7 separate regions of the Homo sapiens genome follow, and all the other regions are linked to region 2. The links come from fine-mapping of genetic effects on gene expression. A gene starts in region 2. Each other region holds a variant in brackets. All regions are shown on one strand. Distances are from middle to middle. Region 1 overlaps PROM2 (prominin 2). Region 2 holds the start of ZNF514 (zinc finger protein 514). Region 3 overlaps MAL (mal, T cell differentiation protein (MAL blood group)). Region 4 has its middle 24 kb from the start of AQP7B. Region 5 overlaps TEKT4 (tektin 4). Region 6 has its middle 34 kb from the start of FAM95A. Region 7 holds the start of FAHD2A (fumarylacetoacetate hydrolase domain containing 2A).

Region 1 (4,066 bases), 120 kb after region 2:
GGCAGTGCAAGGAAGGGGCAGCGCTCTGGACAGTCCTGCAGCTCAACGACTCCTACGACCTGGAGGAGCACCTGGATATCAACCAGGTGAGAGAACGTTTTGGAAACTGTGAGGAGCCCTCCTCAGATCCCCCTCCTCTGGTCTTTTTGCCTCTGTGGAGGCACCGTCTCTTTGAACCTAGGAGACCTGAGAAGTCTGTGTGAGCGATTAAGGTGCCCAAGGGCAGAGGCCCAGTTATCAGCTCTGGGGAAGGTTCCGGGTGTGTAGGTGGGTCCGTGTGCACCTGAAGGCTATGTCCAGCCCCAAGCACAGCCAAGGTGGCAGCAGGAAAGGCTGGTGACAGTGAGCAGGAGGATGAGGGGGCCCATGTGTCCTGACTGAGGACAGGCATTGGCTGGGATGCTCCACTTGGGAGGGGGAGGCTGGGGAAGGACGTGGCAGTGACAAGGATGGTGGTGAGTCTGGCTAACGTTGGTGGAGGGCCTGCCAAGCTCACGCAGGTGGGAGGTGGTGGTGGCAGGATTCCATCCCCAGCCTGACAAGCCTCTTCCTGTAACCTCTGGAGTTACTGGAACTTGGTGTGTAGAACTGGAGACACTTGCCAATGCTGGAAAGAGACAGTTCTAGAATGAAGGCAAGGAAGGGCTGTTTCACAAGAGGGATGGACTTTGAGAATGGGGCTCTCCTCATGGTGCACAGCAGCTGGAAGACATTCACTCCTCGACTTCCACGCTCCTAAGCATATGCTGGGGAAACCCACATCCCCTGGCCCTGGTTCCCCTCGCCCTCCCCAAACACAGAGCATGCTAACTCCTGATTTTGCATCGTTCTGGGAAACCCTTCCAACCCCTGGATCCACCAACCAGCCTCGGCCCACGGACAGCACAGCCGGATGGCCCAGCCCCAACTCTGTACCTTGAACTGCACAACCTGGGACAGTTATGCAGCTCACTCCTCCTTCCGCATCTTTAACCAGACAGGAGCTCCCCGAGCAGGCGATATCTCAGTGCTAGGCTGAGACACTGCCCTGTGGAGGAAGCCTGGCCAGGGAGGGATGAACCAGGGGCCTGGGCAGAGGAGCCCCCATCCTCTACTGGCAGGAAGCCATGGCTCTCGAGGGGAGGAGTCCTGGGCTCTGGTCCTTGGCAGGGGAGGGTCCAGCTCACAGGAGAGTCTGGATAGATAGGGCTTTGGATTCAGATGCACTGGGCAGTCCTCTGAGGCCACCTGACAATGTACCAAATGTGGCTGTAAGAATCCTCGTCCTCAAAGGAGACACTGATGGGTAGGCAGACATGAGTAACACACAGGGCTTTCCAGAGCACGGGGAGGGCACCAGCCACCTTTCCACTTCTCCTGAAGCTGCTGCCACTGATGCCTGAGACACGGCCCGAAGGCCCCCACCCGAGAGGGCCAGGCCTTTTCTCCTCCAGGAGAAGGCAGCCTGGAGGGATGCGGGGAGGAGAGCCAAGCTGGGCTGCAGTCTCTAACCACCTGTGTAACCTCGGCAAGTGGACGCTCCACTCTGACCTCAGTTTCTTATCTGTTAAACACTGGGCTGACTTTTATGACCTCTAAATCTCTTCCAGTGATAGTAGGAAAATGCTAAGGCTCTTTCCTGAAAATACAG[T/TTTCA]TTCATTCATTCATTCATTCATTCATTCATTCATTCATTCACACAGCTAACAAACTTGTCTCCTGCCCACCATGTGTGACCCTCCGAGTTAGATGCTGGGGGTTTGGGGCTGAATAGGCAGGCAAAGTCCCACTCTTGTGGAGCTGACAGCATTGAACAATTAACCCACAAATAAGATCATTTCAGAGCAACAAGTGCTTTGAAGGCCTCGACACAGCTGATGGGATAAAGAGCGGCTGAGAGAGCTATTTTATTTCAGGTGGCCAGGGAAGGTCTGTGTCTCTGCCCAGAAGCCAGATGGGCACTGGAGGAAGGCCAGGTCTTGGCATTTGGGGCAGGGGCCTACTGGGAGCCTGTCTGGGGCTTGGGGTGTCCAGGGCAGGGGGCCCTGAGGGCCTGCTGTGTGAGTCTGTTCTTGTGTTGCTATAAAGGAATACCTGAGGCTGGGGCATGGTGGCTCATGCCTGTAATCCCAGTACTTTGGGAAGCTGAGGTGGAAGGATTACTTGAGCCTAGGAGTTCAAGAACAGCCTGGGCAACATGGGGAGACCCTCCTCTACAATTTTTTTTAAAAGCCAGGTGTGGTTTCTTGCACCTGTAGTCCCAGCTACTCGAGAGGCTGAGGTGGTAGAATCACTGGAGCCCGGGGGATCTAGGCTTCAGTGAGCTGTGATTGTGCTATTGCCCTCCAGCCTGGGCAACAGAGCAAGACCCTGTCCGCTTCCCCAACCAAAAAAAAAAAAGCAATACCTGAGGCTGCATAATTTATAAAGAAAAGAGGTTTAAGTGCAGGCTGTACAGGAAGCATGGCACCGGCAGCCGTTTCTGGGGAGGCCTCAGGAAGCTTCCACTCATGGCCGAAGGCCAAGGGGAGCCAGCACATCACATAGGGAGAGAGGGAACGAGAGAGCCAACGCAGAGGTGCCACACTCTTTCAAACACGTGAAATAACTGAGCAAAACTCACTCATCACATGGCAATGGCACTAAGCCATACGTGAGGGATCCGCCCCCGTGATCTAGTACCTCCCACCAGGCCCACCTTCACCCCCAACACCGGGGATCACATTGCAACATGAAATTTGGAGGGGACAAATATCCAAACCATATCGCCTGGTGACCCCTGTGCTTAGGGGAGCATCTCTGGGGTCCTGGCTCAGCAACTGGGCATGACTCCCACCCTGCGCCTGCTCTCCCAGTATACCAACAAGCTACGGCAGGAGTTGCAGAGCCTGAAAGTAGACACACAGAGCCTGGACCTGCTGAGCTCAGCCGCCCGCCGGGACCTGGAGGCCCTGCAGAGCAGTGGGCTTCAGCGCATCCACTACCCCGACTTCCTCGTTCAGGTCAGCGGTGGGCACCTCAGCAGGGCTTCCTCAGCAGGTGGTGATGGAACGAAGGGGCCCACAGAGGAGCTGGGTGTGCATCTTGCCTTGTCCCAGCTCTGGCTCTTCCACATTTCCTGGGGCCTCTTCCTGTGGAGGTGTCCCCAGATCATGTGCCCCTGGGCCTGTCCTCCTGCCACCACCCCGGTCACACAGGAATGGACAACCTCTCCCCCAACCCAACAGCATGTGTTGCTGTTCATGGTCCTGAACCCACTGCTGCCGAGGACGCATTGGGAAGTTGCCTCTTCCTTAGTTACACCAGAGGGTGCCTTATTTGTTCTTGTTGTTTCTATCTCACTGGGAAAATGTCTGAAATATTTCACAGTTCCAGGGAAAACTCACTGTGACTGATGTGTCACAATACACTTAGCTGGTGTAGGTTATATTTGATAAGACTGGGGATTTGGAGGCTGGGATCAGGTGGTGGTGGGCCCCAGGGGAGCTGGGTTCATCCCTCCTGGCCTCTTCTGTCCACCTGCAGATCCAGAGGCCCGTGGTGAAGACCAGCATGGAGCAGCTGGCCCAGGAGCTGCAAGGACTGGCCCAGGCCCAAGTGAGTGGGAAACAGGGCCCCGACTGGGCAGCAGGAGCCACAGGGGGCTTGGGAGGCGGGAAAGGGTGGGAGGATGTGAGGGCAAAGGCAGGGAACTGAGGACCCCCACCAGTGAGGCCTGAGGCTCCTGACCCCTGGCTGGGCTGGAGGGTTTTGCAGCATCAGTTCTGACTCAAGCTCTGCCACCCGTTGGCTGTGTGGCCTTGGGCAAGACATGCAGCATCTCTGAGCCGGAGGTTCTTCATCTGTTGGGTGGACTGTCCTCCATCTCAGAGCAGATGAAATCACTTCTCTGGCCTCACGCAGTTGGGCAGGTGTTTCTGTGTGTGCCACTTGTGGGATTTGCTGGGACAGGTGCTGTGAGGACATTGGGATGAATGAGATGTCATGGCAGTTGCCCTTGAGGGGAAAAATAGCATTTTGTATTTATAACTATTTAGGGTTTAAAAGTTCTCTTTGAAACATCCCATAGGCCCCACAACAACCCCACAGGGTG
Region 2 (4,066 bases):
TATGGAAAAGAACTTCAAGGAACTTTAAATCTAGCCTACAGGTTAACAATTACACAAGACCCAAGGCAAGGCCATGCAGGATTATGAGGCTTTAAGGGGAGGAAGTTACACCTCTCCCCTCATCCTTGGGAACCCAGCTCAGAGGCCACCTCTTTCTGAGAAGCTGCCCCTGGTGTTCCCAAGCTCTGTTAGGTCTCTGCAACACACTTGAGAGCTCCTTCATTATAAAGCTTTGCATCATACTGTTCATAAAAGCCTTAAAACAAACAAAAAAACTAACCCAAACCATGCCAGAGAAGTAGTTAAGGCTAACAACATGGGTGTAAGCATAGCACAGTTAGGCATTCCTCAAGCTTCATGTGTGTGTGGATCCCTGAGGATCTTGTTAAACTCTGGCTCAAGACTTGCTAAGACACTGTTTGAGGATGTGTGGGGCCCCAGAGTCTGCAATTCTAGAGAACTTCTGGGCAATGCCTCTGCTGTTCCCAGAGCCACACTGATTAACAAGGGTATAAAGGAAAAAAGAGGGGGTGGGAAGCCCACGGACTGGGCCCAGTTCTTCCACTGGCCAGTTATGTGTCCTTGAGCATGTGCACTGAAGGATGAACAGTCGGATTAAAATGCCCACCTGGTTAGAGATAGGACGTTCTAAACTTAGGACTGGCTTAAAACCTCCTGGGTCACCTGGATTGCCCTGCCCCCAACGCTATTGGGGGAAGGGGCTCAGAGGAGATACCCACCATGTACACTGCTGACCTTATACACCGCTGAGCTAGAACGACTGGAAGAACCTTATTAGTGAGGTGATTAAGGAGGTGGATGACAAGGCTCCAAATGGCCCTATCGTCCTCTGATCCCTGGCCAAGGGCCACTCCCTCTTGGGTTTGCTTGCCCTCTCCCTGCCGCAGCAGGAAGAGATCAGATCCTCTTCTGCTCTCCTCTGGCCATTGGGACAATTTTCCATGGCCATCCCCTCCACCTCCGCCACGGTCATCTAGAGACCCCTGCCAGACCCAGGAGACTGCGGCTTCAGCCTTCTGGGTCTGGAAGGTTAGATGTCGCCACACGGAAGGCAGATGAAGTACAGCCTCACCCTTCAGTGGGATTCCCCGGCCTCTTCCTGGGGTCCTCCTGATATCGGGCTCGGTACTAGCTCCCCAAGAGGGCTCCTGGCCCTCTGCACGCTCCAGAGCCAAACCTGATGCTGTGGAGTCCATAGCTGGGGCTAAGGAGCGGCGTCCTTTCACTAGGTCCAAATCTCTGTCTTTCGGCCACAGCCCTGTGGTCCTCCCGAGGGTTCAGGGAGCGGGACGCAGGCTGGGGCTGCCTGGGGGACACGGGGCATCCCCACTAGGCGCGGCGGGGCCAGCGGACCTGCAGGGCCCAGAGCAGGGCCGGCAAACCCCGGTGCGCCCAGCGCGGCGCACTGCTGCCCGGGGTCGTGCTCTTCCCTCGCCAAGTCCGGCCTCCTACCCCCGGCTCGGCTCCTCCTCAGGACCAGGCTCTGGAACCCAGCTCCCACGTGGATCCACACGCACAGTGGGCTCAGACTACCAGGAGACACGGCCACAGCCACGCCCGCGACGCGAGGGCCCAGCGCTCTTCAGCTGCCCGGAAACAGCAGGGATTCGGTGAGAGCCTCACAGGAGCAGGGACCGACTCTATCAGCCCGGTTCGCCCCGCTGTCCCTGCCTAGCTCCGGCCTGCACAGTCCCTAGCGGGGGGCACTCGGAGGGACACACCCAGCTCTGTAAGGGGCCGGGGCGCGGGCCCAGTACAGGTCTGCGCGCCCGCAGTCTCCGAACGCTCACAGGACCAGGCCCCGCCCGCCACCCCGCGCCAGCCCCCGCCCGCCACCCCGCGCCAGCCCCCGCCCGCCACCCCGCGCCAGCCCCCGCCCGCCACCCCGCGCCAGCCCCCGCGTCCGCCCCGCGCCAGCCCCCGCGTCCGCCCCGCGCCAGCCCCCGCGTCCGCCCCGCGCCAGCCCCGCCTCCCGAGGCCGTCCCGAGCTTGCGCAGACGCGGCCGCCGCCGGGGCCCTTCAGAGCCAGCGCCGGTGGCGGGGTGCTGGCGCGGCGAAGCTGGAGAGGCGGGGCTCGCGGGCGCCTGTAGGACCTCCGCTGGGAGGGGCCGTGCTCGCCGGCCACGCGCCGGTTTTCACTCCGCTCTCCCCCAAGGGCAGGGACCTACAAGCATTTCCCTTCTCGCGCGTGACTTTGGTAGCTGAGCCTCATATCTCTCTCGTTTTTTGGGGGGAGGGGGGAGACAGCCTCACTCTGTCGCCCAGGTGGGAGTGCAGGGGCGCGCTCTCGGCTCACCGCAACCTGTCTTCTGGGTACAAGTAATTCTCGTGTCTCAGCCTCCGTAGGAGCTGGGATTACAGGTTCCCGCCACCACGCCCAGCTAATTTGTTGTATTTTTAGTGGAGACGGGGTTTCACTATGTTAGCCACGCTGGTCTCGAATTCTGACCTCAGATGATCCTCCCGCCTCAGCCTCCCAAAGTGCTGTGATTACAGGTGTGAGCCACCGCCCCCAACCTGCATATCTCGATGTAAGGCTATTCAACAGAAGCCGCGTTCCTACCCTGGATCTGCTGAGTGAGGATTTCCAGGAGGCTCTCCTGGCGTGCCTAGGGGATACTGGGGACTCAGTGCTAGATACTGCTTCTACAGGCTGCCCCGTGCCTCTTGCCTTTCTCCATCTGCCCCTGAATTCAGCGAAGGGTGCTGAAGAACAAAAGAGGACTTTGAACGCCCTCCTACTCCAGAAACAAATATCATTTAGGACCCAAAAGAAATGGAAAAACGGCCTGCTATGGTCTGAATGTATGTGTCCCCCTCAAATTCATATGTTGAAACCTAACTCCCAAGGTGATAGTATTAAGAAGTGGAGCCTTTGGAAGACTCTGCCCTCATGAATGAGATTAGTGCCCTTTAAAAACAGCCCTTAGACCGGTCGTGGTGGCTCACATCTGTAATCCCAGCACTTTGGGAGGCCAAGGCGGGCGGATCACTTGAGGTCAGAAGTTTGAGACCAGCCTGGCCAACATGGTGAAACCCTGTCTCTACCAAAAATATATTTAAAAATTAGCTGGGCGTGGTGGTGCACGCCTGTAATCCTAGCTACTCAGGAGGCTGAGACAGGAGAATTGCTTGAACCCGGGAGGCAGAGGTTGTGAGCCAAGATCGTGCCACTGCACTCCAGCCTGGGCGACAGAGCAAGACTCCGTCTCAAAAAATAAATTAAATAAATAAATAAAAATAAAAACGGGCCTTAAGCCCCCTTTGCTCCTCCTGCCATGTGAGGACACAGAAGGTGCCATCTATGAGAAACGTACCCTCACCAGCCCCTGAACTGGCTGGCACGTTGATATTGCATTTCCCAGCATCCAGAACTGTGAACAACAAATTTGTGTTGTTTACAAATTCCCCAGTTTAAGACACTCTGTTATAGCAGCGCCAATGCCTAAGACACAGTCTGAGTATTAAAACGGTGGTTTTCTGGAGGCAGTCCTCAGCCAGAGAAGGGCCACTTGTGAGGACAGAGAGATTGGTTTATCAACCCTATTTAGGAGTTCAGGACAAAATAACTTACAAAATCAAGGCAAAGACAAAATAACACGAAATCAAGGCAAAGAGACCATTCTCCTTTCCTGCTTTTGCAGTCTCTGTTTCACTTTTCTGCCAGCACTTCCAGTGGCACAGATGGCCAGGATGGCGCAGCAAGCAAGCCCTTTTCCACGCAGGGGGACATTGTCTGGGAACCATGGCTGATATAGGAGCTTTTCCATCTTCGGTGCTCCGAACCAAAAAGGTGAGGGGATGGACAAATGAGAAAAGATTTTCATCTCATTGATGGCTCAACAGAACTAGAAATGGAACTACTTCAGAAGAACTTGAGGGCCACTGCCTTTCCCTGATGCCCATTCTGTAGGCCTGCTGCAGTGTCTGAAATTCCCCACTCTTACATTGTGTCCTTTGGGACAGATCTTGATCCAGAGGCCCTTGTTTGTTACAATGCACATTCATTACCCCAGGAATATTCTCTCTCCTGCTCAGTGCTCTA
Region 3 (4,066 bases), 100 kb before region 2:
AGTCTTCATGGATGTTCTGCATGTCATGGGGACTAAAACTCACCCAACAGATCTTTCCAGAGGTCCATGGTGGAAGACGATAACCCTGTGAAATACTTTATAAAATGTCTTAATGTTCAATACATTTGTTGGGTGTTTTTTGGGTTTGGGTTGAATTCCTCAGCATCAAGAATACCATCAATTCAGCTTTCTTTCTGAGGAATCCTTTGACTTAACCTGAATCTCAAGAGACAGCATCAGGTGGCAGTTCAGACGACGGACACTGTGTGTGCCAGGCCACTGCACTCTCAGAGCCCGGTGCTGGGGAGCCCACCCTCCCAGCTACCTGCCCAGATGGCTTCCCCTCTCTCTGGAAACTGGCCAAGTGCCAGCCAGGGGCAGCTTCTCCTTCCTACAAGACACAACAGTCTGTGCCCCACTAGAACCTCCTTCCACCAAAAGAAAACACGGTGCACAAGTTTTCATTCACTCATTGTGAAGCTCATCAGCGTGTTCCTGGGCAGTCTGCTTTGTTCCCATTGTGTGGATAATACATTATTTTAGAATTTCCTCGGGCCACTCCATAGGAGAGAAAGGAGAGGAAATTACAGAGTGAAAGGAAGTACGGTGACAAGGGGTGAATGCCATGTTTCAAGTCTGAGATGTCTGGGTTGAAAGGAGATGGGATGATTAGGAAGGAGGCACTGAGTTAGGAATCTGGAAAGCCCAGCTCTGTTATGAAACGCTCCCTTATCCCATGGCTCCGAGAAGTTAGTGCCATTCCAGAGATGGGACGCTGGAAGAGGTGCTTGAAGACCCGTGAGCTTCCTGCCATGGAGGTGTGTGGTAGAGCATCTGCAACCTCTTGCTGGCAGCCATGGGGACAAAGATTCAAGCTTCAGGCTGTAACGGTGTCATGTACCTGTGGTCCCAGCTACTCAGGAGGTTGAGGTGGGAGCATCACTTGAGCCCAGGAGTTTGAGGTTGCAGTGAGCTGTGATGGTGTTACTGCACTCCAGCCTGGGCAGCAGAGCAAGACCCTGTCTCTAAAATAAAATGATAAAATAAAATAAAAATAAAATTCAAGCCTCAAGTGGTGAGTTTAGTTGACATTTTACTGCTCTTCAACTTGGAGAGTCTACAACTAAATTGGTCTATTCAGGAGGTCCTTTGTTAATCCAGGATAACTGGTACCAGAAACCAGCCACTCTTAGTAAGTACACGTCAAACAGCCAACATTTCATAGTATATCATGAGCAAAAGGTTTGACTGGGGCTTTACCTAATGAGAAGTAATAGGAAGTTTGTTACATGTTTAACAAAATTTCCATCCAGTGTTGATTGAGAGAAGTCTCATTTTTCAACAAAACTGTCCACAGGAAGCCATCAACATGTTAATGAAGCTCACTTTTTACCCTCATCAAAAAGAAGAAGAAGAAGGAGGGGGAGAAGGAGGAGGAGAAATGGAAGGCTTAGTTTCCCAAGGGCTTCTCAATGTTTTGACATTTTAATCATTCTCTTTTTAAAAAAATCTTTCATATACTCTTTCTCTATTTTTAATTTAGCCAAAGGCTTTGCAGATGGTTCTCTGACGCCACTTTCTTATTCCTTCTAGCCCTGGGCATATTTTAAATTTGCAGTTTCATTTCACATTTGACTTGCATCCTATTCACATTGGATGTAAATTGGATGGGCAAGGTTTCATTTCCAGCCTCAAAAAATGCCCCCTTCCGGTCTTGCTCTTCCTCCTCACCCCCCACCCTCACACCCCAGCCCCTGTCGGGTTTCTTTGCTCCTGCATCTCTGTTCCCAGCTCTGTCCCTATCTGGCTGTTTTGTGCTTGCAGGTACACATGAGTGCTGG[C/T]GGCAGCCCTGCCAGCCATGGGTGCTGCTCCCCTGGGAGCCCACGATGCCTGGGTAGGAAGGGTTGGGAATGGGGACATTAGAGAAGCCTGCTGGGTGAAGCAGGCTGCAGAGAGGGGCACCGGCTGAGCACCTTCTGTGTGCTGGGACCATTGAGGGGATGGTTTCTAGCCCCCAAAGCTGCTTCTTGCTGGCACCCCTCACCTCTCTGCCTCTGTCTTACACAGGAGGGGACCTCCTCTAAGGCAGAGCCTGGTGCCACCCAAGGCACTCACAGACTGCCTGCTTGTGGCCCTCACTTAGATCAAACGCAACTGCCCAGAAGACCCAAATTCACTCTTGTGTAACCATCTTCCCTGCCATTTTGGGGGCTCTTGCCTTGTGCCAGGCACTGTGTAAGCACTTTCCATATATAGCTTTCTGTCACTCTCCCAGTGGCCACGTCATCCTACAGGTGAGAAAACTGAGGCTGGTGCAGGTGGTGAGAAGTGCAGTTGGACTGAGGGCCGCCTCCCTCTGGCCCTGAAGCCCTGGGCTTGATATGACCTCAAGGCACCCAGACCTGTCCTCACGCGGGCCGTCCTCCCGTCTCCCAGGAAGTGGCAGTGAGATTTAGTGGTTGACAGGATGCTGGTAGGCAGGAGCCTTCAGAGAGTGATGAAGCCAGGCACTTAGGATAGCCCCAGTCCACCAGCAGGGCCTATAGCAGCCCACGGCCACGGCCAGGCCCTGCACTCAGCGTCTCCTGGAGAAGAGCTGGCTGCTCAGAGCTGCAGCCACAGCCACGCCAGCTCAGGTAGCTGCTGGGTCCACTTTGCAGCCCCCATAGAGCCAAAGCCAAAGTCCAGCTGATACTTTGCAAAGGTGAGGAACTGGGTATTTTTAAGCTCACAGAATAAGGAGCTAAATCTATCCACAAGCCTGAGAAAGGATTAGGAAGAGGCCATTGTGTATGCTGTGACTCAGAGCCAAAGCTTGCAGAATAGGCCAGACCATAGTCAGTCACCCCACTTTTGTCCCCACCAAGTTGTGGGCCCAGCAGAGAAGAGAACAGAGGGGTTTGGACCAACTGGGCCTCGTGGGTCACTGCTAAGGGCTTCCCCCTCCCCTGATTGTCCCTGTGGCTTGTGTGCTGTCCATGGACCCAGGAACGTGCAGTGCCCGGTCAGGCGCCAGGAGGGACACGGGGCCAGTGCTCAATAAACACGGCCGCATAAGTGAGCAGGCCCAGCGCCCCAGGGCCGCTCCAGCTGACCTGTGCTCATGCATGTCTGTCCTCTGGCCTCTCAGGAAATGACAGTGAGATGAGACCTTGTGGTGGACAGATGCCAGGTGAAAGGGAGTTTCTGATGGGGGTGCAGCCAGGGTTTGGTACAGTGTCTGGGAGCGCTCTGGTGTAGATTTCACTGGACAGTGATTTGGTCACTGCATTCCTTCTTGCTTTCCATGGCCCTCGAGCAGCTCCATGGGGCTTATGATTCATTATGGACACGTGTGTGGGGAGGGGGCACATCACCAGAGAGCAATCAGCAAAAGGTAACTATAAGCCAAATCCAGCCAGGACATTTTGGAGGCTATGGCCTGTGACTTCCCAGGCTGTGGCCCCCTTGCTTCAGGGGGCGATCCTGGGAGTATCCTCCTGGTGGCCTTCCTTGTGCAGGGCAGGGTGGCCTGGGAGGTGTCCCAGGGAGCTAAGCTCCTGCCCCCCATTCTGCACATGATAGAGCCCCATCGATCTTCCCTTCTGGAGAAGACACAGCTTATATGAGCCGGGCTTCTTCAACATTTGAGAGCCGAATTCTAAAAAGCATCTCGTACCCCCACTCCCGCAGGTTGTAGGACTATTTTTGCAAAGCAGCCCAAATGGAGGATTGAAGGCTGCCTTACGCTGACCTTAAAGAGACAGCAAAGGGTTTGCGCTGCCAGCCGTGGGCTGGAGCGAGCCTGCCTTCGGGGCCCACACAAGGGCCTGTTGTTCTGGGTATCAACTGGGGCCGGTGTGGGGTTACAAAGAGGCCTTTCAAAGAGACAAAGCGCCTCTGGACAGGCTGAGTGTCCCTGCACACGTGGGCATCCGCCCAGGGCATTTAAAATAACGCGATTTGAAAAAACAGATTTGAAGTGATTTTTCCTACTCCGCGTTATTCAGTGGCCTTTGTTCTGTCTGCATCATACCCGGCGACAGCAGCTTCTAAGAGCTGGGGCGCTGGAGCAGACACGGGGGTT
Region 4 (4,066 bases), 550 kb before region 2:
AACAATGAATTGCATTAATCAAACTCACTTTTTTTGTGTGTGCTTCACTTTATAGCTCTTCACAAATAACACATTTTTCACAAATTGAAGGTTTGTGGCAATCTTGCATCAAGCAAGTCTATTCATTCTATTTTTCCAACAACATGTGCTCACCTGGTGTCTCTATTTGACATTTTAGTAATTATCACAACATTTCACATTTTTAAATTATTATTATTATTTTAAATATTTTAACTTTTATTTTAGGTTCATGGGAACATGTGCAGGTTTGTTCTTTAGGTAAATTCGTGACTCAGGGGTTTGATGTACAGATTATTTTGTCACCTGAATAGTAAGCATAGTACCCAACAATTTTTTTCCCCTGAACCTCACCCATCTCTCATCCTCCTCCCTCAAGCACACCCCAGTGTCTATTGTGCTGCTCTTTCTGTCAATGTGTTCTTATTATTTAGCTCCCATTGATAAGTGAAAATAGGGAGTATTGGGTTTTCTGATCCTGTGTTACTTTGCTAAGGATAATGGCCTCCAAGCTCCATCCATGTTGCTGCAAAGGACAGATCTCATTCTTTTTTATGGCTGCATAGTAATTCATGATGTATATATACCGTACTTTCTTTTTCCAGTCTACCACTGATGGGAATTTAAGTTGATTCCTGGGTATCTATTACCTAAATTACATATAAAAGCAGAAAAGAAAAATGACAAGTAGAACATGAAAGTTAAACAGTATCTTTTCAGGTTCAATGACATAAATATTCTTATTATCTAAAGGTATACAGTCTAATGTTTTATTTCCTATAGTGCTTTTATAGCAAAACAGTTTTCAGAATTAGATAAACCAGATTGAGGCCCCAGTCTTACTACCTATTAGCTAGGTAAACTTGAGCTTTTGGATTTTCAGATTCAGATCTCGCAGGCAAATAAGATTTATTTGATATTACTTGAGGATGACCATGTCTATCTTGCAGATTATTATGGTAATGAGTTTATTTATGTGGATTGTTTTAGGATATTTTAAAACTATGTACAGACCTAAAAAAAATCCTCATAATCTTTGCAGAACTGGGGAGGCATACAGACATAATACAACTGTAGGAGTTACTGTTTCTCATGCTTTTGTTTTCTAACTGCTCTGGCCACTGTTTTAGAAGGAAGGGTGAATATATGTAAATATTCCTGAAAAAATAAAGTTTTAGAATATTAAATTATTACATATTTCATTCAGAATTTTTTGAAAGGTAAAACCAACGATTGAACGTAGTTCATGGGATGATCTGGTCCATATTCATCTACCATGATTTAACAAATTTTTTTCTCATCTATTGATGAGGAAAAAATTAAGGGGAAATGTAGAAATGTAAGGTAAATGATCTGCAAAGAAATAAACACAGGAGGTATGTGGGAATGTAACTGTGTAGGTCCGCAGGCAAACTAGGTGAAGGAGGAAGGTGAGGAAGAAAGGCATTTAAGACTTACTCTTTCTGTTTTCTTCTCAATTTTAAAGCCTGATGGAATATAATTTTCTCTACAGTAAACGTTGAATGAAAATCAGTTTTGTGTGTGTTAATAATGACTTCACCAAGAGCATTTGAAGCTCTATCATATTTTGATGCTCAAAATAAAACATTGTTTTTATAGCTTAATAGTCTCATACAGTCAATTATTGCCTCCCCTCCAGACTGACACTTTGAACATTATTATTAACACTGCTGTCCTTAAACCATCATCGGCCTGCAGTGCAGACAATTTATTGATAGCTAATAAAACAGTGTTCAGATGCTGCCTGAGGGCAGGATTCAGAATTGTCATACCAATGCATAACCACATTTGATTTTTTGGAACAAGTTCCATTACTTAAAAATCATGGTTTCATTTTCTTATTTTTATATCTAGATTTTAACATTATATGCATGCCTATATAAGCATTAAATATGTTATTCAGTTATGTGTGAGTGTAACTCAAATTTCTTGTAATGTGTATGTACAGTTTAATATAAGACAGATTATTGATTAGGAAATAGTTAACAATTAATAATAGACATTGGCCAACCTCAATTACTAAACCAGAAA[G/A]AAAGTTTATTTATTTATTTTATTATTTATTTTTTTATTATACTTTAAGTTTTAGAGTACATGTGCACCATGTGCAGTTTATTTAAATGTATTGACTGTTTTTTAGTCACTACACAAATCATCTAAAAGAAAATACCACAGATGAAACCTGCAGATCCACTAACTGGTTATCAGTTTATCAAGACTGATCGTGTCCACTCCCTTCAGAAATCACATGGATTTGTGCATTATGCAGATCTTTTTTGGTCTTCCCCATCTTTTCCCATCCTGAACTAGAAGTAGAAGCCTATTGCATTTTTATCTGGTACTTTCTTTTGCATTTAGTAGAAATACATACACATACTACCCTAGGCTACTCCGCAGTACATTAAAATTTCCTTTTGCTTTCCAGTAATTTCAAATATCTCAACTAAATTTCTCAGTTGAAAAATCAAAGTTTTAATTCTTATCCATCTTTCAACATAAAAACTTTTAATATTGATTATAATGTGTTGCCTGCACTTTTTTTGTTTTGTTTTGTTTTGAGACGGAGTTTCACTGTGTTGCCCAGGCTGGAATGCAGTGGCTAGATCTCAGCTCATTGAAATGTCCCGAGTTTAAGCAACTCTCCTGCCTTAGCCTCCTCAGTAGCTGGGATTACAGGCAAGCACCACCATGCCTTGCTAATTTTTGTATTTTTATTAGAGATGGGGTTTCACCATGTTGGCCAGGCTGGTCTCGAACTCCTGACCTCAGGTGATCCTCCTGCCTCGGGCTTCCAAAGTGCTGGGGTTACAGGTGTGAGCCACCCTGTCTGGCCCAGCAGCCTTAATAGATACATAAATCTTACTCTATTAATTGAACTAAGAACATCTTTATAATTTTCCAAATATCATTTATAATTATTAAATATTAAAACATATTTATTCTGCTTACCAAACTTTGCATCTCCTCAGAATGCCTAAATATTTTGCCATATGAAGGTTCCAGTGGAAGTTTCAGATGATACATTTTGATGGCAAATGGTGAATTTTCCTATTGAAAAATATGTTGATTACAAGAAATAAGAGAGACGGTAGATTTTCAAAACCTTTTCAAACTATTTCAGATGAATATTCAGAATTATTTTACTTATAGATTGCACTCTTCTAAGGCACTTACATATTCTGACAACTACGTGTTTTTGAAGCAAATTTTGACTGAATTAATAAATGACAGCACAGATCAAAATTTAAAAACTTACAAAATTCTCAATAGATTTCACAATTGTGCAAAGTCCCATGCTTTCTTTTAATATTGTATACTTATTATACTTTTAAAGGGTACTTTTTAACAGTTGATTTATTATCAAATAAACTTTCTATAATTTGACAGAACAACATAAACTCTTGTTTTTCTCCTTTCTACCTAGAACATACATATGATAGTTGAGAAAGACACATATTCTGATCATGAAGAAATAAACACAAGTTAAATATGACTAAGCAGAAAGATGGAAGGACCAGGAACGGTGATGCTAACTTGGAACCACGATGCAGGCTCTAAACTCCTCTAAAATCATCCTCCCTTGTGAGAAAAATACATAAGTCACTCTTAAAATAAATAGAAACCTGAACACACTTCTTAGCTGGTTTAAGTATTTTAAAAACATTGATGAATTAAACACAGAAATATGGGGAAATCTCATTACTTACCTTAAATTTTGAAATTTTCTTTACAGATCATGAGTTACTTAATGCTCTTTCACTCCTGAGTTTACATTGTAAATTAAAGTTATGTCAGCTTTAAAAAATAACCAATTAAAAATAATTATCTAAATTTATACTTTAATTTTAACTAATAGTATGATCTCTTATTATTTACCTCTGATAAAGTCCAAATGTTTGTAGGCCTATAGCTCTGGTTATATACAATGAAATATCTTTCTCATGAGTGTAGAATATCTAGATTATATTTAATGCATTTACTTTTTGAGGAAAAGGAAACCCTTAATAAAATAGCTTCAAATATTTGGTTT
Region 5 (4,056 bases), 280 kb before region 2:
GGGCAGCATGGGGTGCATCGGAGTCCATGCACGTCCTCCAGGAGCATGGGGCGCGGACAGGGCATGGGGGCGCAGCAGGGCTCCCAGCCTTCGGCAGAGCCTCCCCGACCCTCTCCTGGCTGTCCCCCGCCCCGCAGCGCCTCCACCCCGGAGACCCGGGCCAAGTTCACGCAGGACAATCTGTGCCGTGCCCAGCGCGAGCGCCTGGCCTCGGCCAACCTGCGGGTGCTGGTGGACTGCATCCTTCGCGACACCTCCGAGGACCTGCGGCTCCAGTGCGACGCCGTGAACCTGGCCTTCGGGCGCCGCTGTGAGGAGCTGGAGGACGCGCGGTACAAGCTGCATCACCACCTGCACAAGGTGGGGCACCCTGAACCCCGAAGACGGCCCCCTCTCATCACCTGGCCTGGGCCCTCAACACCTTTCTCCTCTGTCCCATTTATCCCGAGGGACCCCAGAAGCAAGTGTCTCCTCTCCGTAAACCTATGTAAAACCAGGTGACACTGGGTATGATCGACCGGTGTTGCCACCCCTATGACTCAGCAGGAGGAGCTGTGGGGAGGATGGAGGCAGGAGGTGGTCTGGGGAACACTGACCGCCCGGGAGGTCCCCAAGAGTCCTGGCCTGGCAGGCAGGGCTCTGAATCTAGGGTCTCAGCGTGGCCTTTACCACCTCTGAGTCCCCAGTCCTTGAGCAGGATTCAGGTCCTGGTGACCACCAAGGATGGGGGTTCTTGGACCACAGCTAAGGGACAACAGGCTTCCTGACTCTCCAGAGCCCACTGGGGGCCCCGTGCACATTGTTCCCCTCATCCACGCCTCCCCAGGGCCACTGGTCAGGACTGCCCTCTGGACACAGCCCCAAGACCTGGGTAGGACCAGCCTGGTCTCGGCGTTCTATATACCCGGGCATGGGGGCACAGGCCCAAGGAGAACTGTCCTGTCTGCAGACACTGCGGGAAATCACAGATCAGGAACACAACGTGGCGGCACTGAAGCAGGCCATCAAGGACAAAGAGGCACCTCTGCACGTAGCCCAGACCCGGCTGTACCTGCGCTCGCACCGGCCCAACATGGAGCTGTGCCGTGACGCAGCCCAGTTCAGGTGCTGCCTGGGCCTCTGAGGCAGTCCCAGGTGGCCCTGTCCACCTCCTCCCTGTGACTCTCTCCAATAAACACTCCAACACCCCGCACACACATCCCCCGCAGGTGCTGAGAGGGGAGGGAGACTTTGGGGCCACACACAACAAGCAGGCATGCCTTAAACACACAGACATACACATGACACTGGGCAGGTCATGGGTCGGGGGGCTCCCAGTGCCAGGGACCTGTGCCCACGTGGTCTCACCCCACCCTATGCTACCTCATCTTCCCGGGAGGAAGCTCCTTCAGACAAGGTGAGCTCCAGGAGGCCACAGAGCCAGAGAGGCCAGGCAGGGCCATTCCCTGCTGCCCTGAGCGTGCTGTCCACACCTCTGGTGGGAAGTATGACCTACGCCTGCGCTACAGGCATAGATGTGCCGTCCTTTTGTTTCCCTTGATAACGGATGCCCGGTGGCCCCTTCTAAGTACCTTTCTTCTTTCCCTGCCCCTCAGTTCCTTCAAGGAACTGGGGGCCTCCTTCCATCAAGTATCAGGAATGGAAAGAACTGAGCCTGGTCGGCTGAGGCCAGTCCTGTCCTGCCAGGGTCGAGATTGCACACGGGTCACTCATTCCCACTCAGGCCCACGCTCCCTGGGAGGACCCTCGTAATTTATGCTCTGCCCTAGAGCTGCTTTCCTGATGGGGTTCTTTCATGGAGTCTTCCCAGGACCTCCTGCCAGCTCCCATTGGGAGTTTTGGGTCCCCTACACCCCGGTAGGTGCATACTTCTGCCCTCCCTAGCCCCGGCTCACACCCCCCCAACACCCCCAGGCTGTTGAGTGAGGTGGAGGAGCTGAACATGTCCCTCACAGCACTGCGAGAGAAGCTTCTAGAAGCGGAGCAGTCCCTGCGCAACCTCGAGGACATCCACATGAGCCTGGAGAAGGACATTGCCGCCATGACCAA[C/G]AGTCTCTTCATCGACCGCCAGAAGTGCATGGCCCATCGTACTCGCTACCCCACCATCCTGCAGCTGGCTGGCTACCAGTGAGCAGCGGCACGGTGCTTCCCCCCAGTCCCCCAAATAAACAGCGCGTTAGCTTTCTGCACAGTGTGTGTGTGTGCACGGTGGGACCTCGAGTTGCTGTCCATCTGAACTGGCCTTTGGGTCCCCTGTGAGGCTGGCTCTGCCTATGGACTCATCATCCTAACAGTTGGAGATGAGGGGTCAGAGCCAGAACCAGGAATCCCTGTGCCTGAGAGGACAGGAAGTGCCCAGGTGGGGACTGGGGCTCCACAGCACAGCTCAGGTGTGGGCGCAGACGGTGTGTCCAGCTCAGAGCCAGGCCATCCAGCTCCTCCCTCCCCACTTCCCCACCAGTGCTGGCTCCTCCATTCCTTCACCAGGGTCTTAGGACCATGGGACATCTTTGGGACCTCTGCATCTCCCCAACTCCTCCCCCTGCACCTCCAGGCCCCCAGCCTCAGCTCACATACTCCTGTGGACAGGGCGCTTACTCTGCTAGAAGCTTGTCTGGCTGCTAGGTGCACCTGCTGGGGTGATCCTCCAGGCAGGCCCCACCCAGAAGCGCCCGCTTCAGCATCCCCTCTCTGTCCCCAATGACAGTGTGTACCTGAGCTCAGCCCAGCCCAGCTCTCAGTGCCCACGACCCCTGAGGCTCAGATGGGCAGATCGGCAGGGGTACATGGAGTTCCCTCCTGGGTGTAGGCCCAGTGTGGGGAGAGGGGCCTGAGAACAGCCCAGAGTGGGCATCCACCTGGAGAGCATGTGGGTGGGGGTCCCATCTCCAACATCCAGGCCCACAGGGCTCTTGTCTCAGCCTGGAGGGGACCAGGAGGTAACAGCCCCTTCCCCCAATCAACCACAAGGACACCCAGCTGGGCAGCTCTGTGAGCTGGGTGGGGTCAGCCAGGTGGAAGTTGCTGCTGGGGGTTGCTGGGAGGAGAGGCATGGGCTGCCTTTCACGTGGGGCTAACTCAGACCTCTCTCCCCGACCTGCTAGGACCCCTCCAGAGGCCACTGCTGAACATGAAAAACACTACTGCTGTTCACTGGGGGAGGTGATAATGTTGACTGCAGGCAGTTGCCTCGGGGAGGAGCCCTCTTGGGAATCTTACTCAGCCTGGATGGGGAGAAATCTGGAAGAGGCTGTGTGTGAGCAGGCAGTGCAGGGAGGGCTTCCTGGAGGAGGGAGCCTGGCTTCCACCGCACAGGCCAAGGCACAGGGGCTGGGACCAGGGAAGGAGGTGTCTGGGCTGGGTCTCTCGCTTTATCTCGCTCTGGTTCACTGCAATAGGCTCATTGCTAACCAGGCCCGTCCCTCCCCAGCTCCAAACCCGACTATCAGGCAGGGAGGATTCTTCTACCCACCTGGCCACTCTCGGAGATGCAGACCCAGACCCTGGAGGGTGGGCCCAAAAGCTTCCAGGACCTTCTCTCCAGTGCAGATTCAGGGGGAAATGTCACTTCCTGTCACCACGGAAGCCGCACTACTACTTGTCGCAAACCACCAGTCACTACAGTAACACCCAAGCCCACTCTTATTCTTTGGGGTGCCATTTAAATTCGCCCTGGATGCTGTTACCATGGGGCTTTGACAGCCAGGAGCAGAGGCAGTGGGACACAGCAGCCAAGCCTCACCTGGGGGCTGCAGACAGTTCGTGTCCTGTCCATGTAGCTCCTCAAAGCTGCTCCAGGACACCAGGCAGGAGCTGAGGCAATGACCTGCCCAGGGAACACCAAAGAACCATCTCCCTGCAATCACCCCCAGCACAGGGAAAACCTGTAGTGAAGCAGATGGTGGTGAACTCAAAGGCCCCTGAGCTGGGGGGAGGTTGTTGGGTGGGGGCTTCACTCCCTGCCACCCTAGACACGATGGCCAGGGAGGGGTCAGGTGTGTGTGGGTGGTGGCTGCAGAGCCCTCCCTGCCTGCTGCAGGGGGATGCAGGTGGTCC
Region 6 (4,066 bases), 430 kb before region 2:
CCACTCAGACCCTCAGTTGACTGGCAGCACTGAACAGCTTAAAAAAAAAAAGATGAAAACACAGAAAAACCCAAACACCCACAAGGGGAGACCATGTGTGGAGAGAGCGTGCTGGGAGCCTCAGTAGCCGGTCTCCTCCTGGTGGTAAGGGAGATATTCAGGGGCCTCCCCTGGCCCCGGGAAGTCACCGGAGCCCGAGGGAGCGCCATGGGCCACTGGGCCTCCCCAGTAGTACTTGGGGTCGTATATCTGTGGGCCCAGGCCGAAGGCCTGGCTGCTCTGATGAGCGCCCTGACTGTATCCCATCTTCAGGGACATGGAGGAGTTGTCACACTTGTCGATTCCCAGCTTGGTGTCATAGATGTACTCATTCCTCCTATCTAGCTGTAAGTTTGTATTTGTTAACCAACCTCTCCCTGTCCTCTCCTCCCTGTTGCTCTCCCCAGCCTATAATAACCAGAATTCTACTCTCCACTTCCATGAGCTCAGTTCGTTTTTTTTTAGCTCCCACATATGAGTGAGAACATGCAAGATTTATAATTCTGTGCCTAGGTTATTTCACTTAATATAGTCTTCCAGCCTGATCCATGTTGCAGCCAAGGACAGGATTTCATTATTTTTACGGCTAAATAGTACTCCACTGTGAATAGATACTACATTTTTAATCTATTATGTTTTTGGACATTTAGGTTGATTCTAAACTTGGCTACTGTGAATAGTGGCTGCTATAAACATGAGGGTGCAGGTATCTCCTAAATATGCTGATTTCCTTTCCTGTAGATAAATGCCACGTAGTGGGACTGCTGGAAAAAGAAAAAATTCTTTTTCTTTAAACCTGATCATGTCTGTCCTCATAAATGCATGTTACACCCATCTCTCGCCATCAATGCCACCCCACCCCGAGCAGTTTTTCACTCTTCTCTTCCCTCGTTCTCTGCACCCCGTGTGCCTCCATACCCCAGCCTCAGGCCTTTCTATACCACTTCCCATTTGAGGCACTGTGTTTTTATTCAACTTTGGTACTGTCCTTTGAGAATCTTCAACGTGATTTGGATATGGCACTTTTTATCAGGATGTTACGTCAGAGTTGATAAATTCAAAGTAATATCGTTCTTTTTCCTGCCAAAGTCAGCTCCTCCTTTCCACTGCACTTTCCTGCCGATGCCACCACTCTTTCTCCTGTTGTGTAGGGAGAACACAGGTCACCTCCCTGGCATGAAATGTGCAGGTGCTCAATAAAGATTTGTTGAGTACATGAATGAATGTTCTTAGAGGACACCCTTGTACCTGGACTGGTCATTACATAGGTGTAAGTTTTATTCTCTAAAAGGGGTGAGTGAGAGTTTATACTAAGGTTGTAAGCATCCCTCAGGGCAGACTCTGGATATATAATACAGAACTGCTGAACTTGTGGAATGTGCATGTTTAATACTGAAAATATTTAATGTCACATGTGTAAGACTTTTGCCAACTGGAATCTGAACATCAACAACTTTGAAGGGCTTATTGTACCTTCTCAGCACAAAAATACTTTCTACGAATACACAAATTTATGTGCAAACGTATAGAAAATTGACTTTAAAGTGTACAACAAATTTATTTTAGCAATTGGGCCTGGGGCACCTAGAAGGAGAATGAGATTGGAGTGGTAGGGGTGGAACATTAGCTAATAATGCTTTATTTTATTAAAAGTAATTACTGAAAACCAATGCAATAAAATATTAACATGTTAATTGAAGGGATTGGGAGTATAGTGCTTATATTCTTCTTTACATGTTTTAATATCTTTAAAATTCCTTTTTTTGCTTTTCGTAAGGAAGTCACAGTTTAATTGGCAGTATATCTCTAATGGTACATGAAATAATGTCTGATTTCTAAACATTGACATTCTACATTAGATGAAATATATTAACTATTAAGCTTTGATATTACACTATAAAATTAATTGAAGAAAGCCACCCCTCTTTTTTCTTTTTTTTTTTAGTTATTATGTGCCCCATATGATCTGCAGGAATTTTTTTACTAGGCTTTGATCATTTTAAATAAAATCAGAATTTGTTCAAGTTCAGTTAACACTCAGCTGTGAACCCTATGGTACTGGGGTCTTTTTCAATGGGAGATCTCTAAGCATTATTCCAGATTATTCTATGCTAATTGATCTATTAATAATTTATAATATATTAGGAAATACATTAAATTTCTTAAAAAGAAAAAGGAAAGAAGTAAAGGGAAACATTTATTACAATTTAAATAAAGGAATTAGCAGTTGAAAACAAGAAAACCTGTTCTGAGCATCCATACTTCTCGGCAACCAAAACAATCAATGAAATCAATGCAT[T/C]GGGTTAAACAGTTCCCAATTGCCCACTATGTTACCAGGAGAAAAAAACCCTTTATCATAGGGTTAAACTTCGGGAAGGATTTTCCATAAGGATCTTAATATAAAGGTTCTTGAATGACATAATGTATAAGGTCTTTGATAGCAACGCTACCCACAGGGCAAAGATGTTTTACTAGTCCTGTTGGTGTCTCAAATTGGCTCTCGGTAAGTAATCTGGACATATCGTGAAATTATAATTCTGTGTAGACAATTCGACTTACCAGGTTAGAGTGATGCAATCCAAATAGATGGCTTTCTTCTGATCTCGCTTAACAGAAATCTTGAAAAATCTGGAAAAGTAAATGTTTAATATACCCTCAGTTCTCAACCATTCTTCTTCCCCTGAAAGACAACATCACAGGCAGGACATCCTCCCAAGGGTACATGCAATATTATGTACAGTTCCCACGTGAGAAAGCACATCATAATCTTAGTGAGAATGATGTTCTCATAAGGTCAGTTATACTCAGTGTGCATAGTTGTCCAAGTGTGAGTATGAAACCAAGTCATTCGCAAGTACCACTAGTCTGATTATTAGTAATAATAATCCACTTGTGACATAGTTTTTCTTTGCTGAAATAAAATATTGTTTTGACACCATGGTTGAAATGTTGGTCTTAGGTCAATGCTCTCTATTATCTGTTGTTGTTGCCAAGCCTTTGAGAGGTGTTTTATGTGGGGCAAAATGTCCCTTCCTGTGTCTTTGGTCAAAGCAAAGGAGGAGTACAGATGACTGAGAGAGTGATCATGCTGCTGTGCTCACCTATGCGGTAGACCTTGTTCCTGGGTTGGGAGATGTTTTGTGATCAGGGTGCAGTAGAAAGAGCACACTAGTAGCAGTAAAGAGAGGTGACCCTGGCTGCAGTTCTGCCTCTAACTTCCTGAGTGACCTCAGGCTAGTCACGCAGTGACTGCTCCCCGCATTTCTTTTTGTAAGCTGCAAGGATTGAATCAGACAATAGCCTCTAAGTTTCTTCTGAACTCTCATACTCAGGGATGCCAACGATGTTGGTAATAAAATAATATGAACATGCCAAAAAAATAAAAATAAGGAAGAGAAGTAGGTATGTAACTTTACTCTGGGACTCCTATGGTATCTCACAACACCATGCTTCATGAACCCCAGAGAAAGCAAAAAATCCAGCTAGTGTTATAAATCCTGATCAGCTGAATTCTTTCACATGTTGCAGGCTGACTCAAGTTATTCATCGCAGAGGCCAGCAGCTCCCTGATGCATCCTTCCTTGTCTCTGGACAGGGTAAAAATAAGAAATTGGCCATTGTGAGACACTCTGAGTTTTGTGGGATTGAGCAGAGCATATTTTATATTCTTCTCTTGGAACTGCCTCTTGTTGGTAGTAAATGGTTGCCAGCACTGTTGTTTCTCAATAGACAAGTCCTAGAAATAAAGATAATTCAATTTTCATTCACTCTTAGCTCTTCTGCTACCAGTGTTCTTCTTTGACACTGACAGGGCTGCACCTGTCTTCCTGGCCTGACATAGCACTTGTGTGGTTTGCCACTTGCCAGAAAATCCATGAGTCATTCTAAAGACCTTTTGCCCAGCAGAGACCACTCCAATGAGCACAAATTGTCTAGTGGTTTTTTTTAGATGGTCTTCCTCCTTGGCTCATTTCTCTCCAAGAACGAAGATATCAAGGTGTTCATTTAACAGCAGCTCGTGAAAGAC
Region 7 (4,066 bases), 240 kb after region 2:
TGTTCAGCTTTTCCATGACGTCTGCCCTCCTTGCCCCTTAGTCACCAATGAGCTGGCTCCGTGATTAGATCCACTGTCGTGGTACCGCAGTGCTTCTGTGCAAGGCACCATCATCTGACTTCATAATGGCCCCAGAGCAAAAGGGGAGTGGTGTCGGCATTTCCGATATGCCAAAGAGAAGCCTTCCTTTATGGGAACGCTCCTGACTTAAGGAAATAAAACAAAAATCACATAATGAGGTTGCTAAGAGCTACAGAAAGAACGAATCTTCTATCCATGAAATTGTGAAGAAGGAAAAAGAAATTTGTGCCAGTTTTGCTGTCGCACCTCAAACTGCAAAAGTTATGGCTACAGTGTGTGAGAAGCACTTAGTTAGGATGGAAAAGGCATTAGATTTGTGGGTGGAAGACGTGAACAGAAACATATTCTGATTGAACAGCAACCGTGTAGCACCAGGTTAACTTCATCTGGATTAAATTTGATCACTGGCATGTATATATAGGAAAAGACGTAGCAGATGTAGGGTTTGGTACTATCTGCAGTTTCAGGCGTCCTCTAGGGGTCTTGGAAAGTACCCCCCAAGGATACTCTATACAAATGAAATAATTCCATATGTACTCATTTTTAATCTCTTTTTCACTCTGAATAATTATCTTGATATATATCCATGTTGCATCAACAATTTGTCCCTTTTCATTGCTGGGTAGTATTCCCTAGTGTGGCTATAACAGAGTGTTTACACATTCACCTGTTAATGAAAAATTGAGTTGTTTCCAGTTTGGGGATTTTGTAAAAAGGCTGCTGTGAACATTTCTGTATAAGCCATTGCATAAGCATTTTTTTTAAATTTCTCAGGTAATTACTATAAAACAAAAAAACAAATCTGGATTATATAAGGAGCGAATTTATTCCAAAGGATTGTTGTGGGGGTGACCATTGCAATAGGGAAACGTTGCAGTGCGGCCACTCGCAGGCTTCCCATATGATCTGCAAGTGTCTCAGAGGTTAGGCAAAGGGCTGATCTTGTATAGGGAGGCGTAAACGTGGCTAGAAAGAACTGTTATGGGAAAGTGGGCTGAGCAAGAGTGTCACGATCGAGGAGGTCTTACCCTGCGGACAGCCTGTTCTCAGGAGGGAACCTCAGGAGGGCTGCGGGTTGGCACAAGCTGTGGGTGGGCCAAAGCTCAAGGGCTTGGAAAAGGAGAGAATCTGAACCAAGGTTTGGTTACAGGCTTTTGTTCTTATTGATCTGTGGGACAAGCAGCCCAGCTAATCATTTATGAGGCCAAGAATGGGAATTTAGAGGGTCTGTGTCTGGCCTGGTCACAGATAAACAAGGGAGCATCTGGGAGTCTTATCCAGGTTATATAGAAAGTCACTGGTTCTTTCCAGTAGGGGGTTTTCTGGAACAAAAGAGTGGTGGGATTCCTTAACCTTCACTATTTCTAGAAGCAAAGGGCTAAGGTAAAATTCAATACTGTCAATAGTCAGGATTGAAATGGCTACATCATATGGTAGGTGTATGTTTAATTCTCTTCATACACTGACAAATGGTTTTCGATCGTGGTGGTACTATTTTATAATCCCATCAGCAGTGTACAAGAATCCCAGGTCCTCCACATTCTTGCCAGTACTTGGTATAATCAGTCTTCTTTGTCCATTCTAGTAGGTGTGAGATGGTGTCACATTGCGCTTGCAATTTGCATATCCTTAATGATTAATGATGTTGAGCATCTTTTCATGTCCTAATTTTTTCTTT[C/A]TTTTTTTTTTTGAGACAGAGTCTTGCTTTGTCGCCCAGGCTGGAGTGCAGTGGCACGATCTCGGCTCACTGCAAGCTCCACCTCCCGGGTTCCCGCCACTCTTCTGCCTCAGCCTCCCCAGTAGCTAGGACTACAGGCGCCCACCACCACGCTCGGCTAATTTTTTGTATTTTTAGTAGAGATGGGGTTTAACTGTGTTAGCCAGGATGGTCTCGATCTCCTGACCTTGTGATCCGCCTGCCTCGGCCTCCCAAAATGCTGGGATTGCAGGCGTGAGCCACTGCGCCCAGCCTTCATGTCCCAATTTTCTGTCTGTATATCTTATTTGATGAAATGTCAGTTCAAATATTTTGTCCATCTAAAAAATTGAATTGTTTGATTTTATCTACTGACTTTTAAGCATTCTTTCTATATTCTGGATACAAGTCTTTTTATCAAATATAGCCTTTACAGATATTTTCTTCCAGGCTGTAACTTAGCTTTTCAGAAAGTCTTTGGGAGCTATGGCTTAGTGAAACCCTTGTGCCAGGTTCTCCTCAGCGAATCCCCCTGATCACAGCCACCCCCATAGGTTCCATTTCAATATCTGTGGTGACCTTCTGCAAGCTAGGCTGAAGTCCCAAGCTCCAGACCCATGTCTCCAACTGCCCACCGTTCAATGCCCTTTGGATGTCCCATGCAAATCGGAGCTCACCATCCTCTCCCCAGACCCGCTGCTCCTCCAGGAGCCCTGTCTCCATGAACGGCCCTGCACCTACCGAGCTAGAGACCCAGGAGTTGGCCTTGTACCTCCTTCCTTCTCACTTCCACCTCCTGTCATTCAGAGCTGTCAGTTCTTCCTCCTGAACATCTCTGGACACTCACCTTCTCCACCACGCACCGCACCACCATTGTTCTCAACCGCACCACCCACCCAGACACCTTTCCTCAGACGGGTGGCCAGAGAAAAACTTCTCAAATAGAAGTCGGGACATGGCACGCCACTGAGAACCTTCCAGCGGTCTCCTGTGCACGTAAACAAGGTCCAGACTCCTTCGTGGGACAAGTAAAGCTCTTGATGATCTGGTCCTTGAGTAATGTGGGGGCCACTTGTACAGAGCCCCTCACACTGTTCAAAGTCGGCAGCTGAAGAGCTGAGCAGTAGCTGTCTGTGGAGTTCAGCTGCCACTCCCTACACGCCTGCCCTCTGCAGGGGATGGAGTCCCGTTTCCCCACTTCCCCACCTGCGCCCAGCAGTGCAGGTGAAGGCCTGGCTGCGGAGAGTGGCTGGGAAACGCTGCGCTTTGGGGTCAGGAATGCCAGCTCCACTACTCACCGCCTGTGTCACCCTGGGAAAACAGCTCTGGCCCCAGGTTCTCCATAAGTAAAACGGGGGCAGTCATCCCTCCCCTCCTCAACGACATATGTCAGAATCAGAAGCCACAAATCATTCTCTGCCACCCAGCACGCTGCCTTGGTCTCCTAGACCACTTTCCCCAACAATGGGAAAGGCGCCAGGCCCAGAACAAGGCCGAGACCGGATGAGGCCAGCGAAGCGCCCAGGGACAAACCTTCGGGCAGCGCCCACTCTCGAGTTCAGGCAAGTGCAGGGTCCCTCCGAGAGAGAGCGTCTCCAGAGAACGCGGCTGGCGCCTGGCTGAACCCGTAGCCTGAAGACCCGCCGGAGCCGCCCGCCCCACGATGGGCCCGCCCCTCCGGGATTGGCGCCCTGCTAGTGGCCATTGCCTGTGACGTCACAGGATCGCGCCCGCTTTTCTCTCGGGTGATCCGGCCGAGTGGCCCTGGGTTAGCAGCTGCTGCATTTCCCCGGCTGGCTGCGGTCACTGGTGGCAGTGCTCAGGCGCCCGCCGCCCTTGACCTTCGGCCCCGCGAGCTCTAACCCTACAGCGCAGGAAGATCGGCCGCCGCGGCCAGGTAGGACGAGCCTGGCTGGGTCTAGGCCAGAAGGGTGTCCGTGGCGCCGGTCTCCCGCGGAGCGCAGAACTAGTACCGGATCCCCAGCCGCTTCTGACCACACAGACGGGGCGGACCTGTGTGAGCACTCACTAACTGTCGGGGCTGGAGCTGGGCATATGGGGAAACTGGGGGACCGGCACGGGTTCCAGGCGAGTGGACGGTGGGATGGAATCCGACGTGCACACCCATGTCTCAGGCTTTGTTTGATGGAGGCTACTGTTTCCACCTCATGTCGCCGCCCCTTTGCTTATGGACTCTTGCAGAGTTGGATTGAGCTCGGGCTGTGTGATATAGTGGTTGTTGCAGAAGCCCCAGGGCCACTTTCTGACTAGTACCTTGGGCACCTGACA

What was found. PIP is the estimated chance that this variant, and not a neighbour inherited with it, causes the effect.
Region 1: its variant is fine-mapped to the expression of ZNF514 in whole blood (INTERVAL, PIP above 0.99).
Region 3: its variant is fine-mapped to the expression of ZNF514 in whole blood (TOPMed, PIP above 0.99). The same link has a PIP of 0.9 or more in tibial nerve.
Region 4: its variant is fine-mapped to the expression of ZNF514 in gastroesophageal junction (GTEx, PIP above 0.99).
Region 5: its variant is fine-mapped to the expression of ZNF514 in esophagus mucosa (GTEx, PIP above 0.99). The same link has a PIP of 0.9 or more in whole blood.
Region 6: its variant is fine-mapped to the expression of ZNF514 in aorta (GTEx, PIP above 0.99).
Region 7: its variant is fine-mapped to the expression of ZNF514 in whole blood (INTERVAL, PIP above 0.99).

The regions. Positions count from the first base shown.
Region 1 is chr2:95,282,141-95,286,206 of GRCh38, forward strand. It overlaps PROM2 (prominin 2), which reads left to right. Exons shown (of 24, transcript NM_001165978.3): 14 at 2-86; 15 at 2,829-2,975; 16 at 3,499-3,570. Among named protein-coding and RNA genes, the nearest start is that of PROM2, 9.7 kb to the left of the region's middle. The variant T/TTTCA (reference allele first, on the strand shown) is at 1,631.
Region 2 is chr2:95,157,767-95,161,832 of GRCh38, forward strand. ZNF514 (zinc finger protein 514) reads right to left here and starts at 2,082. Exons shown (of 5, transcript NM_032788.3): 1 at 1,474-2,082. RefSeq lists a silencer at 1,909-2,158.
Region 3 is chr2:95,053,873-95,057,938 of GRCh38, forward strand. MAL (mal, T cell differentiation protein (MAL blood group)) reads left to right here. Exons shown (of 4, transcript NM_002371.4): 4 at 1-120. Among named protein-coding and RNA genes, the nearest start is that of MAL-AS1, 29 kb to the left of the region's middle. The variant C/T (reference allele first, on the strand shown) is at 1,842.
Region 4 is chr2:94,608,875-94,612,940 of GRCh38, forward strand. No RefSeq gene overlaps it. Among named protein-coding and RNA genes, the nearest start is that of AQP7B, 24 kb to the left of the region's middle. The variant G/A (reference allele first, on the strand shown) is at 2,071.
Region 5 is chr2:94,874,639-94,878,694 of GRCh38, forward strand. TEKT4 (tektin 4) reads left to right here. Exons shown (of 6, transcript NM_144705.4): 4 at 138-360; 5 at 950-1,104; 6 at 1,915-2,185. The coding sequence ends at 2,131. All of the region lies in intron 8 of LOC442028 (a long non-coding RNA gene), which reads right to left. Among named protein-coding and RNA genes, the nearest start is that of TEKT4, 5.2 kb to the left of the region's middle. The variant C/G (reference allele first, on the strand shown) is at 2,050.
Region 6 is chr2:94,725,548-94,729,613 of GRCh38, forward strand. It overlaps the pseudogene CNN2P11. Among named protein-coding and RNA genes, the nearest start is that of FAM95A, 34 kb to the right of the region's middle. The variant T/C (reference allele first, on the strand shown) is at 2,339.
Region 7 is chr2:95,399,199-95,403,264 of GRCh38, forward strand. It overlaps FAHD2A (fumarylacetoacetate hydrolase domain containing 2A), which reads left to right and starts at 3,510. Exons shown (of 8, transcript NM_016044.3): 1 at 3,510-3,674. RefSeq lists enhancers at 2,280-3,219, 3,149-3,228, 3,220-4,066. The variant C/A (reference allele first, on the strand shown) is at 1,760.